Linked DNA regions of Homo sapiens: all the other regions are linked to region 3. Evidence: fine-mapped expression QTL. A gene starts in region 3. Each other region holds a variant in brackets. All regions are shown on one strand. Distances are between the middles of the regions.

What was found. PIP is the estimated chance that this variant, and not a neighbour inherited with it, causes the effect. A credible set is the group of variants that fine-mapping cannot tell apart.
Region 1: its variant is the best candidate, but not a certain one, in a credible set for the expression of SIGLEC7 in monocytes after interferon gamma (Fairfax 2014, PIP 0.61).
Region 2: its variant is the best candidate, but not a certain one, in a credible set for the expression of SIGLEC7 in monocytes (Kim-Hellmuth 2017, PIP 0.67).

The regions. Positions count from the first base shown.
Region 1 is chr19:51,162,503-51,165,264 of GRCh38, forward strand. It overlaps LOC101928517 (a long non-coding RNA gene), which reads right to left. Exons shown (of 5, transcript NR_110732.1): 2 at 2,719-2,762. Among named protein-coding and RNA genes, the nearest start is that of SIGLEC7, 22 kb to the left of the region's middle. The variant C/T (reference allele first, on the strand shown) is at 1,615.
Region 2 is chr19:51,171,614-51,174,375 of GRCh38, forward strand. All of the region lies in intron 1 of LOC101928517 (a long non-coding RNA gene), which reads right to left. It also overlaps the pseudogene SIGLEC17P. Among named protein-coding and RNA genes, the nearest start is that of SIGLEC7, 31 kb to the left of the region's middle. The variant C/T (reference allele first, on the strand shown) is at 1,429.
Region 3 is chr19:51,140,841-51,143,602 of GRCh38, forward strand. SIGLEC7 (sialic acid binding Ig like lectin 7) reads left to right here and starts at 1,461. Exons shown (of 7, transcript NM_014385.4): 1 at 1,461-1,962. The coding sequence starts at 1,530.

The sequences.
Region 1 (2,762 bases), 22 kb after region 3:
GCCTGGCATGGCCTTAGGTTTTGTATATGATTTGGTATCTCATTGCCACAGAGTCTGTTCTGCCAGTCTTATGATCTCCATTTCCATATTAAGGTTAATCAGTTGCTGCATCTCAACTGCAAAAGGAAGGGGCTATAATGAGGTGTGTCTGACCTCTCGTCCCATTGTAGCAGCAACTCAGTTTTTAAGATTTTTCTGGGGTCCCCTTGGCCAAGAGGGGGTCTGTTCAGTTGATTACAGGGCTTAGGATTTTATTTTTAGTTTACAGTATCTAAAAAAATCTGAGCCCAGATAATGTCAAGAAGCTTTTTCTCCTGTTTTCTTCAAGGAGTTTTACAGTTTCAGGCCTTACATTTCCATCTTTAATCCATATTGAGTTGATTTTGTTTACGTCTGAGATAACTGGCAATGGCAGCTTTGATGAACATGTGTGAAAGGGTGGGGGACTTGATTGGAAGCTCGTTTGGAAAATAACCGAAGAAAGGAAGGTAGGAAGAGTGACGACAAACAACCTCTTGAGGAGTTTTGCTGCAAATGTTACCCACCCTTGGAGGGGTGAGTTGGCCCTAGTGGGTCCTTTCTCTGCCCCCTGCCACTTACGCCAATAGAATGAGACCAGAATCGGCAAAGCGGAGAAGAAACTTTATTCATTGATCAAGAAATGGAGAAAGGGAGTTCATGTGCAAAGCACCTTCTCCCAGGGGTTGGTAAAAGGGGATCTTAAGGGCCCTTAGGGCAGGTAGTTGGAGACTGAGGCGGGCAGATCTGGAAAAAGGTGGGTTCCTTCAGGAGGGGCTGAAGTGTGCACACTCTTGTGTTTTCTTTTGTACTTGGCACCTTCTGTGCCTAGCAAGGCATAGTTCTCGCCCCTGAGTGGAGATTTTAGTATGGTAATGAAGCAAGAAATCAGGTCAAGGCCTGCACTGAGGCAGGAATCCAGGTCCAGGCAGCACGTCTGGGCTGAACTCATCCCCTGGCTGGTTCCTGTTGCTGGCTCCCAGCCTTTGTTTCTGGCAGCAAGCAGAGCTGCAAGCACAGGTTAGTTTCACAGGTTTTGGGGCTTCCTGAGAGAACTGAGGTCATGTTGCAGAAACACAAAAAGGAACAGAGAAATGGATCTGGAGAAGAAGAATTTTTCTCAGTTCTTACCCACAATCTCCCAGAGGTGCTCAAATTCATAGACAAAGAAAGTAGAAAGTTGGTTGCCATGGGTTGGGGGCAGGATGGGATAGGAAGTTATCATTTAGTTGGTATAGAGTTTCAATTTGGCAAGATGAAGAAATTTCTGGAGATCAATGATTAATAATTGCATAAGAGTGTGAATGTACTTAGTGCCACTTACCTGTGCACTGAAAAATGGTTAAAATTGTAATTTTTTAATGTATATTTTAACACAAATTTTAAAAAGCACTAAATATTTGATCAGCCTCCTCGCCAAATAAGAAAAACTGATGGCAAATAATCACATGAAAGCATTCTCAACACCATTTGCTGCTACGAAATCACAGATTAGAACCAGAATGAGGTAGCAGTACATACCTATTAGAATGGCTACAAAACAAAACCCAAAGAAATTTTTTTTTAAATCCGGATAATACCAAATGTTAATGAAAA[C/T]GTAGAGCAACCAGAACTCATATATTCTGCTGGTGGGAATGTAAAATGGTACACCCACTTTGGAGAACAGTTTGGCAATTTCTTATAAATTCGAACTTACACATATGACCAAGCACCCGACTCCTAGGTATTTACCCAAGAGAAATAAAAAAACTAGTGTCCACACACAGAAATCTGCATGTGAATATTTATACTAGTTTTACTTTACAGTCACCAAAACCTAAAAACAATATGAATGTTCACCAGCCAGTAAATGTATACAAAATGGGGATCTATGAAAACAGTGAGGTATGAGTCAGCAATTTAAAAACAACACCCCATCACATGGACGAGCCCCAAATGCATTAAACCAAGTGAATGAATCCAGATTTTAAAGGCTACATTTTGAATGATTCCGTTTATATGACATTCTTTAAAAGGCATATCAGTAGGGTAGAGAATAGATTAGTGTTTTTACAGGAATTAAATAGGGAGGGACAGTTGCCTACCAAGGAACATCAGGAGGGAATGTTTTAAGTAATGGCACTTGGTAGTGTCTTGACTGTGGTTGTGGGTATATAGCTACATACATCTGTCAAACCTCAAATAATTGCATATGAGAAATACTCAGTTGATGAAATTGATGGTACCTAAATTCAAAATACACTAGAGATGACACTACGCTCTCACTAGAATTGTTAAAATATAAAGACTGACAATACCAAGTGTTAATAAAGGTGTACAGCTACCGGAATTCTGGTGCATGGCTGGGAGTAGTGGTAAAAGTCAAAGCCATTTGGATAACGATTCTGCAATTCCTACAAAAATTAAATATGCAGGTATTATTTGAACTAAAAATTCCACATCTTGTGTATAAATGAGTATAAAAACATGTCTATAAAAAGACTTCTACTTGGATACCTATAGAAAAAACCTGGAAAATCTTAAACGTCTATCAATAGGTGAGTAAATAAAAGATAATACTACTTAGCAATAACACATTGTGAACTACAGGCATATACAACAGCTTGGCTCAGTTTCAAAAAATGATTGCTGAGTGACAGAATACAGACACAATTTTTTAGTATATTTCTAGGAAATTCTCAAGTAGACAAACTAACTCACCATGACAGCGGGTATATTGATGATTTCCCAGCATACGCGATGGG
Region 2 (2,762 bases), 31 kb after region 3:
ACATATTTTCATAGACCAATTGATATTTGTATCTTTTTGGAGAAGTTTTCACTCAAGTTCTTTGTCTACTTTTTAATAGGTTAATTTGGGTTGTTTGTAATTTGAGTGGTTTGTAAATTACATGCCCTTTATATATGCTGGATACTACACCCTTATCAGATCTGTGCTTTACAAATGTATTTTCCCATTCTGTGGGTTGTCTATTCACTTTCTTGATAGTGCCAATCAATGCAAAATAGTTTTTAATTTTGATAAAGTCCAAATTATGTATCATTTCTTCTTCCAACTGCTGGACAGTCAGGGAACAGCTTAGAATGAGCCCTGGGCTGATGTGATACCACATCCAAGGATGCAGGAAGGATCTGAAGAACCAATGTCCAAGTTGTCTTGGGAGAGGAAGGACATGGTTTGTGGTTTAGCAGGTGAATGGGCCTCATCCCACCTTTTTGCAGGGAAATCAGGAACCGTGGAAGAGGTGGTTGTTTTGGCCGTGGGGGTAGTGGCTGTGAAGATCCTGCTTCTCTGCCTTTGCCTCATCATCCTCAGGTAAGCACTGCCTGAAGACCAAGGACAGGCATGGGGAGGGCAGAGGACATGATGCTGAATCCCAGAATCTCAATCCTGGGGGTATGCAGACAGTTTACGTGGTCCTGGGGCCAGGCTGGAGGCTGAATTGGTGGTGAGAATTACACATGGGCCATTTGTGGTCAGTTTGTGTCTGTCCCAACTGAGGGCCAAATGCCAGGATGGGGAGCTTCCTGTTGTCATCAAGGAAGTCTAGACCTGCTCTTCCTCCCTGTGATCCCTCCAGCCTCTAGCAGGGCACAGGAAGTTGAGTTGGCTGCCCTTTGCTCCCTTCATGTGGCCACACTTACAGGTCCTTGTCTCTTCACTCAATGTCAGTTTCCACAAGAAGAAGGCGGTGAGGGCAGTGGAGGTTGAGGAGAATGTATATGCTGTCATGGGTTAATCTCTCAGGTGAGTGATGTGGGCCTCTCACTCTTCAACATCCTGCTGGATAACTCCTCCACAATGGCCTCCAGGATTGCTCTGCCCATCATGGCCAAAGTTAAGCCAACTGTCTTCCTCCTCAAACCTACTTTTCCTGGGATGTGGGTTCTTCATCCTGCAGATGACAAAGAGGCCTCATCTCTAAAGTCAGAACCTGGGTGTGGGTCTCCATCTTGACCCCCCTCCCTTCTCTAGATCCCATAAATTACTAGCTCTTGTCCCTCCTTCTCCTAAGCAGGGCTCATCTTGATGCCCTTTTCTCCATCCTGACCCTGGTCATTCTTGCGGCCTCACCTCTTCCCTGATCACTGAACCCTTTTCACCTCCTGCCTCCATCTCTCCCCAACACAGGCCTCCAGACTGTACTTCCAGATGTCTCCTCATCCAGTTCCTCCACAGTCTGAATGGCCATGTTTC[C/T]TCTTCATTGCTGGAGAATGAAGTGCAAATGCCACTGCCTGGACTGAAGGCCTTTCACGATCTGTCTTCTGCTGGACTCTGCTCCTGATCCCCCTTCTCCTTGCATCACCCGAAGTCTCCCTACACCCACCAGGCCAAGCCCTCTGTGATTCTGAGACTTTGCATGTGTAGTTACTTCTCCTGAAATGGCCTTCCTCCCCATTCCTGCCAATCCAGGTCCTTATCATCCTTCAGGTTGTCTTAAATGTCATCCAGGTGTGTGTATTTTTATGTAATCCTTGTATGATATTAAGCGGAGATGTGGCATTTGTTCATTAATTTGTAGACATATTCAGTAACCATACTGAATACATATAATGACTATGTGCCAGCATTTCCGTATGTGCAAGAAGTTCATCAATAGATATAGACTCAAAGAGCTCTGTCATCAAGCTGTTGTTCTGAAGAGCAGAAGGATACAAATAAAAAGAAATAAGTAAAATATTTTTTCCCATGTTGGATAGAGATATTTGTTTAGAGAAAAATAACACAGGGAAATAAGCACAGACTATACTGGGAAACAGTTTCTATATCTGATAGTGGAAAGAGGTGACATTTAGGCAAAGACGTGAAGGTGCTGAAGAGGCGGGCTCTGAGTCTGAATAAGAGAAAAGCATCCCAGGAAAAGGATAAGGGGAAGAGCAAGTGCACTGCTCAGAGGCAGCAGCAGGCCTGGGGGTTGTGGGCTCAACCAGAGCCCCATGTCTTAGAGCAGAGGAAGGGTAAGGAGGGAGCAGCAGGAAGGAAGCTGCAGACTGCGTGGGGTGCTGCAGCGCGCACAGGAGCCTGGAGCCTTTGGGAAGGGCAGAGACACAACTGGACTCTCACTCTGACCTCAAATGCCTGAGTCAGAGCAGGCCCAAGTGGGTCATGGCAGCCACAGGAAGACGGGGAAGGCACTGCTGGGTCCTCCAGGAGGAGGGATGAGGGCTGAGCCAGCGAGGCAGGGTGGGGTGAGGACATGTTTTTGGATGTGTGTGGAAGATCAAGCTAATAAGGATCACAGGCTAACTATGTGTTCAGTGAGGGGAAGGCAATACAAAGGACGAGGCCGGAATGTTCCCCTGGGCACCTGGAAGGAAGGAGCTTTGTCCATAGAGGACTGAAGAGGGAAGGACTTTCCTAGAGAATGATTAATTCTGAGAATCCACCTGACATCAGAATGGGACTAGGAGGGAGACAGCCGGATGTAACTGTCAGGAGCTCAAGAGAGGGGTCCAGATTGGAGATGTTACAATGCACATTCAACAACTTGGTTCAGTTTCCAAAAATATTACTGCTGAGATGAAAGAATA
Region 3 (2,762 bases):
GGGATTTTCTATGTATACAACATCTTCAGGAAAACCTACGTGAAGTTAGAATTTTCAAGGCAGCATGTGCCGATGATAAAACTACATAGAACAGCAGGAAGACTATTATCATTAAAGTGAGGCTAGGGGCTCCTTCAGGAGGGAGCGGGGGCATGGCCAATAGGAAAGGGGAATGTAAGGGTGAATGAATTAATAAAATCTCTTTCTTCATTTCAAGGGACAGACTTGACAGTTCTTTTGTGTTCTAGTTCTTCAAGGGTGCTTATTTTGTGTGAATCACTGAGTTGGTTTTTAGGGGACACTTTTATGTACATGTCTTGTGTTTCTCCCCGCTCAAAAAAAACTGTTTCAAGAAAAGCTGGCCTGGATCTAAGGGGGCTGCAGCTTGCAGGATTTTTCCCACTTCCTCCCAGCCCAGTCACACAGTTTAAAATAATCTTCTGTTGAAGTCAGGTGCGTGTTTCTTCTCTCAGAAAATCGCGCCCATCACTGAGGGTGGACGCCCCGGGGCTGGTGTCTTTGCTCCACGTCTCCTGTTCACCTGAACCCCTAGGAGCAGTTCCTGCAGGAGCAAAGCCCCAGGGCCAGCAGACCCCTCACACTCTGCACTAACCAGGCCTCATGAGATAGCAGTGGTGAAGGGAAATGTCCTTGTGCTCAGAGAGCTGTGAGGATGGGAATAGTGTCTGCTCTTTTCATATTGATCCTTTCCCTTATGACTTTCCTGTCTACCAAGCCCCACAATACAACAATCACAGCCTCAGCTTCCCCGGCCTCCTGCAGGCTGGGCTCCCCTCCGTGTCCTTGGCGTGTATCAACAGGCGCAATCCTCACCTTCACAGCCCCATGTCCGTCTGCTCGGTCCTCCTGAGACTGAACCCCCGACCTAGGGGAGAGTGACCCCACCCTGCCTGTGCCCCCCACTGAAGCTCCTGTCATGGGGAGCTCAAACGTCAGGAGACTCAGTGTCTCCCCACCACACAGTGACTCCTTGGGGACAGTGTCCGGCTCTGCTGTGTTGACCTCATTGTGCAGAAAGGGGGTGCCCACCTCGTGGCTGCTGAGGGAGGGATGAGAGGCTGCCTGTTCACCCCACCTGCACCCCTGTCTCTCATGGCCCCGAGTCCCACTTCTGAGCTACGCAGACATCCACAGCCTGTGACTCAGGGGTCTGGGCAGATGGGAGTTATTTTCACCCTGCAGAAAATATCACCTAAAGGGAAAGGCATTGAGAGGGAGGCAGGAGGTGGGGTGGGCCCTGCATGGGGTGGGAATCTGGGTGAGTCTGTCTCCCGCTCTGGCCTCAGGGACCCAGGAGTGAATGTCGGGTGGTGGACGGTGGATCTCCCAGGGCTGACCCAGCCCTGACAGTGTCTGTGTGTGAAGTTCTTCTTCTAAGGAGGTCACTGTTTTGACCTCACCACCGACTTCCTGTAGGGCCTCTTCTAAGTCTTGAGCCCGCAGTTCCTGAGAGAAGAACCCTGAGGAACAGACGTTCCCTCGCGGCCCTGGCACCTCCAACCCCAGATATGCTGCTGCTGCTGCTGCTGCCCCTGCTCTGGGGGAGGGAGAGGGTGGAAGGACAGAAGAGTAACCGGAAGGATTACTCGCTGACGATGCAGAGTTCCGTGACCGTGCAAGAGGGCATGTGTGTCCATGTGCGCTGCTCCTTCTCCTACCCAGTGGACAGCCAGACTGACTCTGACCCAGTTCATGGCTACTGGTTCCGGGCAGGGAATGATATAAGCTGGAAGGCTCCAGTGGCCACAAACAACCCAGCTTGGGCAGTGCAGGAGGAAACTCGGGACCGATTCCACCTCCTTGGGGACCCACAGACCAAAAATTGCACCCTGAGCATCAGAGATGCCAGAATGAGTGATGCGGGGAGATACTTCTTTCGTATGGAGAAAGGAAATATAAAATGGAATTATAAATATGACCAGCTCTCTGTGAACGTGACAGGTAAGGCACGGGCTCCAAGAGAGGCCAAAGGCAAATGTGATGAGGGCTTTAGGGCACGGCTGAGACGGGACACATGTCCTGGGAGGGGGCCGGGGGTGATGGACTCAGGAGAGGAGCTGGACCAGAGCCTGAGCTTCCCCAGGACCGCACCTTGGATGCCCCTCCTGATCCTGCAGGCCCCTCCCCTCACCAGCCCTGACCCACAGGCCTGACATCCTCATCCTGCCTCTGACGCTGGCATTGTGGCATGTGGGGCCTTATGACTCCTTGTTTTGGGGCCTGTCCTAGGCATGGCCGGGGTTTAGCACCATCCCAGGCCTCTCCCCACCAGATGCCAGAAGCACCCACTCCACCCATGCAGTGAGACAATAACAATTATCTCCACACATTGTTAAACGTCCTGGGGGGTTAAGTCCTCCCCAGTTGAGAGCCTTAGGTCTACACAACCCCGTGACTCTCTCAGGCCAGGCCAGGGAGGAAGCACTTCCTGGCGCAAACCAAGGGCAGCAGAGGCACCTGAGCCTGGACAGGGAGACTCAGCACACGGCCCCTCCATCTCTCATGCCCTGAGGTCCTCGGAGATCCACATTTAGATGCTCAAAAGACAGGAGGGACCTCCACGATGGTCCAGAGGCCGGGAGGGCAGGACCTACGTGTCTGGTGCAGGCCCTGGTGCTCCAGGGAAGCCCGGAGGTAGGAGGTGGGACACGGTCTCTTCTCCTCCCTGGGTGGGTCTCTAGGGTCTCTGAGCTTCAGGGTTTCCTTCACTCTGTGCAGAGGGAACCAGTTCCTATAGCATG